2 linked regions of the Homo sapiens genome follow. The protein of the gene in region 1 purifies or fractionates together with the protein of each later gene. This does not show direct contact. Each region holds a gene or a part of one and is shown on either strand. Other genes may lie near its edges.

Region 1 (3,500 bases):
CCCTTTGCAGATAACTATTATTCTGACTTCTAGTAGCATGGATTCGTTTTCTCTTTTTTTTTACTTTTCAGTTTATATTCTCATATCTGGCCTTTGTACTGTACAGTTTTGTTTTCTTGTGTCTGGCCTCTGTGTTCAACATCATGTTTGTGAGACTCATTTAAATTTTTGTGTGTGTTCATTCTTTCTCATGGTTGCATAGTATTTCATTCATAAATATTACTATTCATTCCAATATTGACAGGCATATCTTTAAATTATTAATGTGCATATTTGGTTTTAAAAGTTCAAAGTTGAAGATATTATTTCAGTTGCTTCTGGCTTCTGTTGTTGCTCTTGGAAAGTGTTCTAAGTTTTAATCCTTCATGGATAATTTGTCTTTTCTCTTGGGCGTTTATAAAGATCTCTTTGTCCTTTGTTTTCTGCAGTCACAACATGTCTAGGTGTGAATTTACTTTTATTGTCCTATTTGAAACTTGTGTTTCTCAATCCGAAGATCCACATCTTTTTTTTTTTTCTTTGATCTGTCGCCCAGGCTGAAGTGCAGTGGCACTGATCTCGGCTCACTGCAACCTCCACCTCCCGGGTTCAAGCGATTCTCCTGCCCCAGCCTCCCGAGTAGCCGGGATTACAGGCACACGCCACCACGCCCAGCTAATTTTTGTAATTTTAGTAGAGATGGAGTTTCACCATTTTGGTCAGGCTGATCTTGAACTCCTGACCTCGTGATCTGCCTGCCTCGGCCCCACAAAGTGCTGGGATTATAGGCATGAGCCACTGCGCCCAGCCCCACATCTTCTATCAGTTCTGAAAAAAAACCTAAGCCATTGGTTTCAAAGCATAATGGTAACATGGGCAAATAAATGTTTTTAAAAATCACTCTGTTGCTTACCAGTTGTTTACTTTGGACGAAACATTTAAATGGCTTGTGCCTTAGATTTCTCATCTGTACCATGGGGACAATACTAATCACTATTCTTCCTACCTCAGAGAGCTATCTTGGATAGCAAGGAGGAGAATGTACTTGAAATTGCATTGCAAGTTATAATATGCCACCCAAATAGTACAGGATTGAGTTCACTGTAGATGTTCAACAAAATTTATTTAATGAATCTCAATAAATATTTGTTGAATGTTTAATGAATAAACAGTGTAAATATTGTTTAAAATTTTATTGTTTTTCTCCTTCCCCATTCCCTATAAAAGAAATGCAAGAATATTTGCATCACTCACAGAAATTATCTATGTATACACCTAGAATGTATATGAAAAATCACTACGATGATTTAGACATAAAATGAAATTATATTCAGCTCCCAATGCTGTTGATTTTCTAAAATATAAGCCATTGTCTCTACCATTGGTAGTGTTTAATGTCTGTAAACTACTATTGTTCCTTTTGTCTGTACTCTACCAGCCATCAGATATTGTGTGCATATCCTTGTCTTAGTGTCCATTTTTAATGAATTAATGTATTTCCTGTCTCTCTAATTAGATTTTGTGGAGATGGGCTAGTGAAAAGTTCATGGGTTTAAAATTAGGCAGATCTGGAACCAGATCTTGACTTTTCCATTTCCTGACCTGTGACATTAGGCAAATAGCTTTACCTTTCTCATCTTCTGTTTACTTTTCTGAAAAGTAAGGGATTAATTTAGTTATGGATTCCCTGCCATGTGTATAGTGTTCTTTTAGGTGTTTGAATGACTTAATTTGTATCCTTGTAGCAACCTTGCAATATAGATGTTACTATTCTTTTACAGGTAGGGAACTTGATACTCAGAAAGATAACTTGCCTAAGGTCATAAAGCTAGTATGCATTATAGCCAGACTTCTAACCTGGGGTGTCTGATTATAAAGTGTGCCCCCTCACTAGTATCTGAGAAGGTGTTTAGCACAGTTGACACTCAGTTAATATAGGCTCTTTTTTAGTGGAGCGATAATGTTTTATAATTTTCTAACACTTGACATTTTTCCCTGTACATAGTAGGTACTTCTTCACCAATTGCTTATTGGCTCTGTTTATGCTGCTGTTGTTTTATTCACTGAATGTTCACTTTTTAGCCAAAGGGAAAGGACAGTCCCAAACCAGAGTGAATATTAATGCTGCCTTGGTTGAGGATATAATCAACTTGGAAGAGGTGAATGAAGAAATGAAGTCTGTGATAGAAGCTCTCAAGGATAATTTCAATAAGACTCTCAATATAAGGACCTCACCAGGTTAGTGACTGAACCAATGTTCTGGGGAGGGATGTAATGGAAAGAGCATGGGTTTGGCAGAGTTGAGTTTTAGTCCCAGCTTTGCCATTTACTAACTGGTGGCCATGGGCAGTTACTTTGCTTTTCTGGTCCTCGGTTTTCTTGTTTGATTCTTAACTTACAGCTTTGGGGTGGTAGTTAAAATAAATGAGGTAACGTATTATGGTTCTAGCATAGTGCCTGGCGCATAGTTAACACTACATTTATTTATCCATGCTGCAAATTTTTGTCTACTTTGGAACTAGGCATTGTGCTAGTGCATAGTAGTAAACAAAAATAGGTATTGTCTTTGCTATCATGGAATTAGACTCTCAGAAAAATGAGATTTTTATTATGAATGTACTATAAACACATCTAGGTATTTAGTCTCATAGTAACTGACATCTTTGGTCCGATTTTTCCAATTTGTCCTGTTTGGCAGTTCTTATCCCTTACTGGGAACCAAATGAATACAGACCTGCCCACGTGAGGCATTTCTATACCCCTGAGCTTGACCAGGAAGATTCCGTTTGGGTTAATAACTTCCTGAAAGTGGCTTTTCTAAGTGGGAAATGTCAGAACTGTCTAGGCCAACTGTTTGCAGATGTGATGGAGAAGTGAGTTGTCAGCTGATGGTGCAAGCAGGCAGGAAAAATCCAGTTGCTGTTAAATTAGGCTTTTGCAAATTGTCATCATCCTAAAGTCAAACCTGGGACCCCTCTCTTAAGGTACCTGTGGGAGCTTGGGCTGCTTCTACTCACATCTTGATTAGGATAGTTCATAAGAAAACTAGAAATATTTCGCTCTTAAGAAAACCAAGTGAAAAATACAGCTCCACTTATAAACACTATCAGAAACATTACCGAGTTCAGAGATGAGATCCAGTGTGAAACTAGAAGACTGTTCCCGTCACTTGTCAACCTTTGGGCTGGGGCATTTCTGCCTTTGCTGACAGTAGAGCGTGCCATTCAATCTCTCTCAACTGTTTATTTTAAACTTGCTTATTATTTTAGGTATGAAACTGATAAAGTGCTCTGTCTCCCCTGTGTTTTCTGGCCTGTTAACATTCTGCAGCCGAAACCAGAGAGCAGTTTGAGAGGAGCTCAGGGAGAAATGTGATACTTAAAATTAGCCAGCAAGCTCCACTCTTGTTGAACTTAAAAAGATGATGGGCCTGGAAAGAGGTTGGGAGTGTAATTTGTTAAATGTTAACCTCTGAGAAAATGAGGGGCAGGAATGAGGCTGAGGGAGATTCTCGCTGGGGA
Region 2 (3,985 bases), on another chromosome or scaffold:
CCAACTAAGCCTCCCAAATAGCTGAGACTAGAGGTATGCGCCACCACACCTAGCTATTTTTTTTATTTTTAGTAAGGACAAGGTCTCATTATGTTGGCCAGGCTGGTCTCAAATTCCTGAGCTCAGTTGATCCTCCCACCTCAGCCTCCCAAAGTGCTGGGATTACAGGTGTAAGCCACTGCACCCTGCCTATTCTTATAATCATATATTTATATTTCAAATGGATTTTAACTGGTTATTTAATAGTTTAATTAGATAAAGTAATTCATGGCTGGGTGTGGTGGCTCACGCCTGTAATCCCAGCACTTTGGCAGGCTGAGGCAGGTGGATTACCTGAGGTCGGAAGTTCGAGACCAGCCCAACCAACGTGGAGAAACCCCATCTCTATTAAAAATGCAAAATTAGCAGGACATGGTGATACACACCTGTAATCCCAGCTAGTCAGGAGGCTGAGGCAGGAGAATTACTTGAGCCAGGGAAGCAGAGGTTGTGGTGAGCTAAGATTGTGCCACTGCACTCCAGCCTGAGAGAACAAGACTCCGTCTCAAAAAAAGAAAAAAAGAAAACTTTTTTACACATGGGTATCTCACCATGTTGCCCAGGCTGGAGTGCAGTAGCTATTCATAGGCACAGTCATAGCACACTGCAGCCTAGAATTTCTGACCTCAAGCAATCATCCTGCCTCAGCCTCCTAAGTAGCTAGGACTACAGGTGCATACCACCATAACCAGCTTTAATTAAATGTTTTTTATTTGGTTATTTTTTTTAAGTTTTCTGTATTCACACAAGGGGTTGCCCAAATATAATTTTGCTTTGACTATTGAGATCTAGTGAAAGTGGGGTATATGAATTCTAATTGCAAATATCCAGGCTCAGAGGCCCAGCAGGACTTTCTAACACAATCTTTTAGCGGAAGTTAGAAATGGTATATAGCAGGAGAGTCAGATTTGAGAAGCATATGTAGATTCGAAGCTGGGGGAATATGGCAGGTAGTTTGTACAACATCTAATTCAGAACATTAAAATTAAGATTTTAGTCAAACTGTGTTTAAGTTAGTTCTTATTTTCCTGTAGATGCATCTCACAGCATCAGTACAATACCAAAAAAGCACACAAGAATAAGAATATGTGGAATTTCTATACCTATTGACAAAGCACATAATTTAACCATAAACACAAAGCCATAGGTCAACAAAGAAATGAAGATTCCAGTTCTGAAGGTGAGTTTTCTGAAGCCAAAGTGGATACATGCAAAATTAATATAGTTTTACTGTATATCAGTTGTCACCAATCAGAAATGGAAAACAGATCCTATTTATAATTGCAAACAAAACTGTAAAATAGACTTTTTAAAGTCTGGGAATAGACTTCTAAAATAAGCTATAACACTTAAAAAGGAGAGATATACTATGTTCCTAGATAGGACAATTGAAAATTCTGGAGATGACAGTTTTTCAAAAATCTATTGAGGCCAGGTGCAGTGGCCCATGCCTGTAGTTCCAGTACTTTGGGAGGCCTAGGTGGGTGGATCACCTGAGGTTGGGAGTTTGAGACCAGCCTGACCAACATGGAGAAACCCCGTCTCTACTAAAAATACAAAATTAGCCAGGCGTGGTGGTGCATGCCTGTAATCCCAGCTACTCGGGAGGCTGAGGCGTGAGAATCGCTTGAACCCGGTAGGCAGATGTTGCAGTGAGCCGAGATCGCACCATTGCACTCCAGCCTAGGCAACAAGAGCGAAACTCCATCTCAAAAATAGAAAAAACATTTATCGAAATCCCAACAAGTTGACAAATATATCCACATAAAAATATAAAACTTCTGTATTCTGTGAAAGCTACTATAAATAAAGTTTAGAGAAAGTTATTTGCCACCTATGTCATGATTGAAATAGTTAATTGATCCTGTGAATCAGTTAGCAAAACATAACTCAATGGAAAGATAGGCAAATGATACAAATAAGAAATTCACAAAAGAAGAAATACTAAGTCTCTAGTGATGAGAGAAATGTAAATTAAAATGAAACATGTTTGTTCATCAAGTTGTCACAAGTTAGACAATCATATCCAATATTTTTAAAGGTTGTAAGACTATAAGGAAATAGCCACTGTCATATCATTTTTAAAGGAATATAAATTATAGGGCCTTTTGTTTCTTTGGGTTTTTTTTTTTTAGAGACAAGATCTCTCCGTGTTGTCTAGGCTGGACTCAAACTTCTGGACTCAAGCAATCCTCGCAACATCATTAATAGCTGAGAGTAGAGACTTGAGCCACCACACCTGACTATAGGGCCTTTTTGAAAGGAAAATTGACATCATCAAAATTTTAAATATATTCAGTCTATTTCTCAAAAACTCAAAGAATACTAATAAATGTGTACTCAGGTATATGTACAGAAATTGCTGTAACATTATAATTTTAAACAATTTAAAACAGACTGAGTTTCCAAAGTTAGGGTACAATGAAAGAAAAGGTGGCTTATTTATACTCTGGAATATTTTCCAAGAGTTGAAAAGGATGAGGATACACACACACACACACACACACACACACACACACACACACACACACAGTTTGGGTATCCCTAATCCAGAAATTCAAATGCTCCAAAGTCCAAAACTTTCTGACCCACCAACATGACTGATGCTCAAAGGAAATGGCCACTGGAAGATTTCAGATTTTCAGATTTGGAGTGCTCAACCAGTAAGTATATAATGCAAATAATCCAAAATACAAAAAAAAAAAAAAAGAAATCTGAAACACTTCTGATCCCAAGCATTTCAGAAAACGGATGTTCATTTGTGTGTGTGTGTGTGTGTAAGCAGGTGTTGCTAGAAATTCACTTATATACAAGAAAACTTTTTGTGTACATATTTGCATATATATGTACAAATGGGTAGAAACGATACATGATTAATCTTAATCGGGAAGGAAAAGAGATTTAGGGAAGGAAGCAGTAAGTGAGAACTTTTATTCTATTTACTCCTGCACGTTTAAATATTGTTTACAGTGAGTATATCAACATGTAAGTGTTAAAAGACAATAAGCTACTAGTGATTTTTAATATAAAATTAACTATAAAATATTTTAAATATTAGCAAATAATATAGCACACTCATGAACCTAATTCCCACATTTGATAGTTGTTACATTTTGCCATGTTTGTTTAAAGGTCTAAGTCATAAAATCTTATAAAGCTAAACCCCACCCTTCTCTTTCTCCTCTCTCTCCAGGATAATTACTGTTTTATAGTTTGTGGATATCATTCCCTTACTTGTGTTTATACTTTTACCAAGTGTGTATGTATTCAAAAAACAGTTGTTTTGTGATTTTAAAATGTAAATGAATGGCGTTATGCTCCATGTATTCTGCAACTTTTCATCATACATTAGGTTTTGGCGATTTAGCCATAATTTGGCATGAATTCAGGTCTTTTAAGTTTTATTCCATTGTAAGAATAAACAAGTTTGTTCATTCATGTCTCCATTGATGAGTGATAGTATTGTCTCCAGTTTTTTTATGTTGCAAACCAATTTGCAAAAAACTCTGGCACATAGATTTTTACACCCAAGAAAAAGTTTACCTGGACATACACCAAGGAGCAGAACTGTTGAGTCCTAGCGTATGTGCATATTCAGCTTTTCCAGAAATTTCTAAATTGCTCTTTAAAATAGTTGTACCAGTTTACATTCCAATCGACAGTGTGTGAAAGGTCCCATTTCCCCACATCCTCACTGTTATGTATGATTTTTCTCATTGTCAAACTAATGGATATAAAATGGTATATTGTTTTAATTTGCATTTCTTAATTACTGGGGAGGCAGATCATCTTGTCATATGTTTATTGGCCATTATGGTTTCCCATTATGAATGTGTGTCTCTATCTTTTGTCCTCTTTTCTCTGTTGGGTTGTCTGGCTTTTTCTAACCAATCCTTTATATATTCTGGATACTAGTCCTTTGTTAATTATCTTTTTCCAATATGTG

Evidence for each region.
Region 2: the proteins of MRRF (region 1) and LYRM7 purify together in Homo sapiens (affinity purification with mass spectrometry, with the first as the bait; one large-scale study listed by BioGRID). This does not show direct contact.

Annotation. Positions count from the first base shown.
Region 1 is NC_000009.12:122,278,382-122,281,881, forward strand, and holds part of MRRF (ribosome-recycling factor, mitochondrial isoform 1 precursor), read left to right. Parts: intron 1-2,061; coding exon 2,062-2,217; intron 2,218-3,500. UniProt on the Homo sapiens protein: Responsible for the disassembly of ribosomes from messenger RNA at the termination of mitochondrial protein biosynthesis. Acts in collaboration with GFM2. Promotes mitochondrial ribosome recycling by dissolution of intersubunit contacts.
Region 2 is NC_000005.10:131,201,944-131,205,928, forward strand, and holds the end of LYRM7 (complex III assembly factor LYRM7), read left to right. Parts: 3' UTR 1-3,485; downstream 3,486-3,985.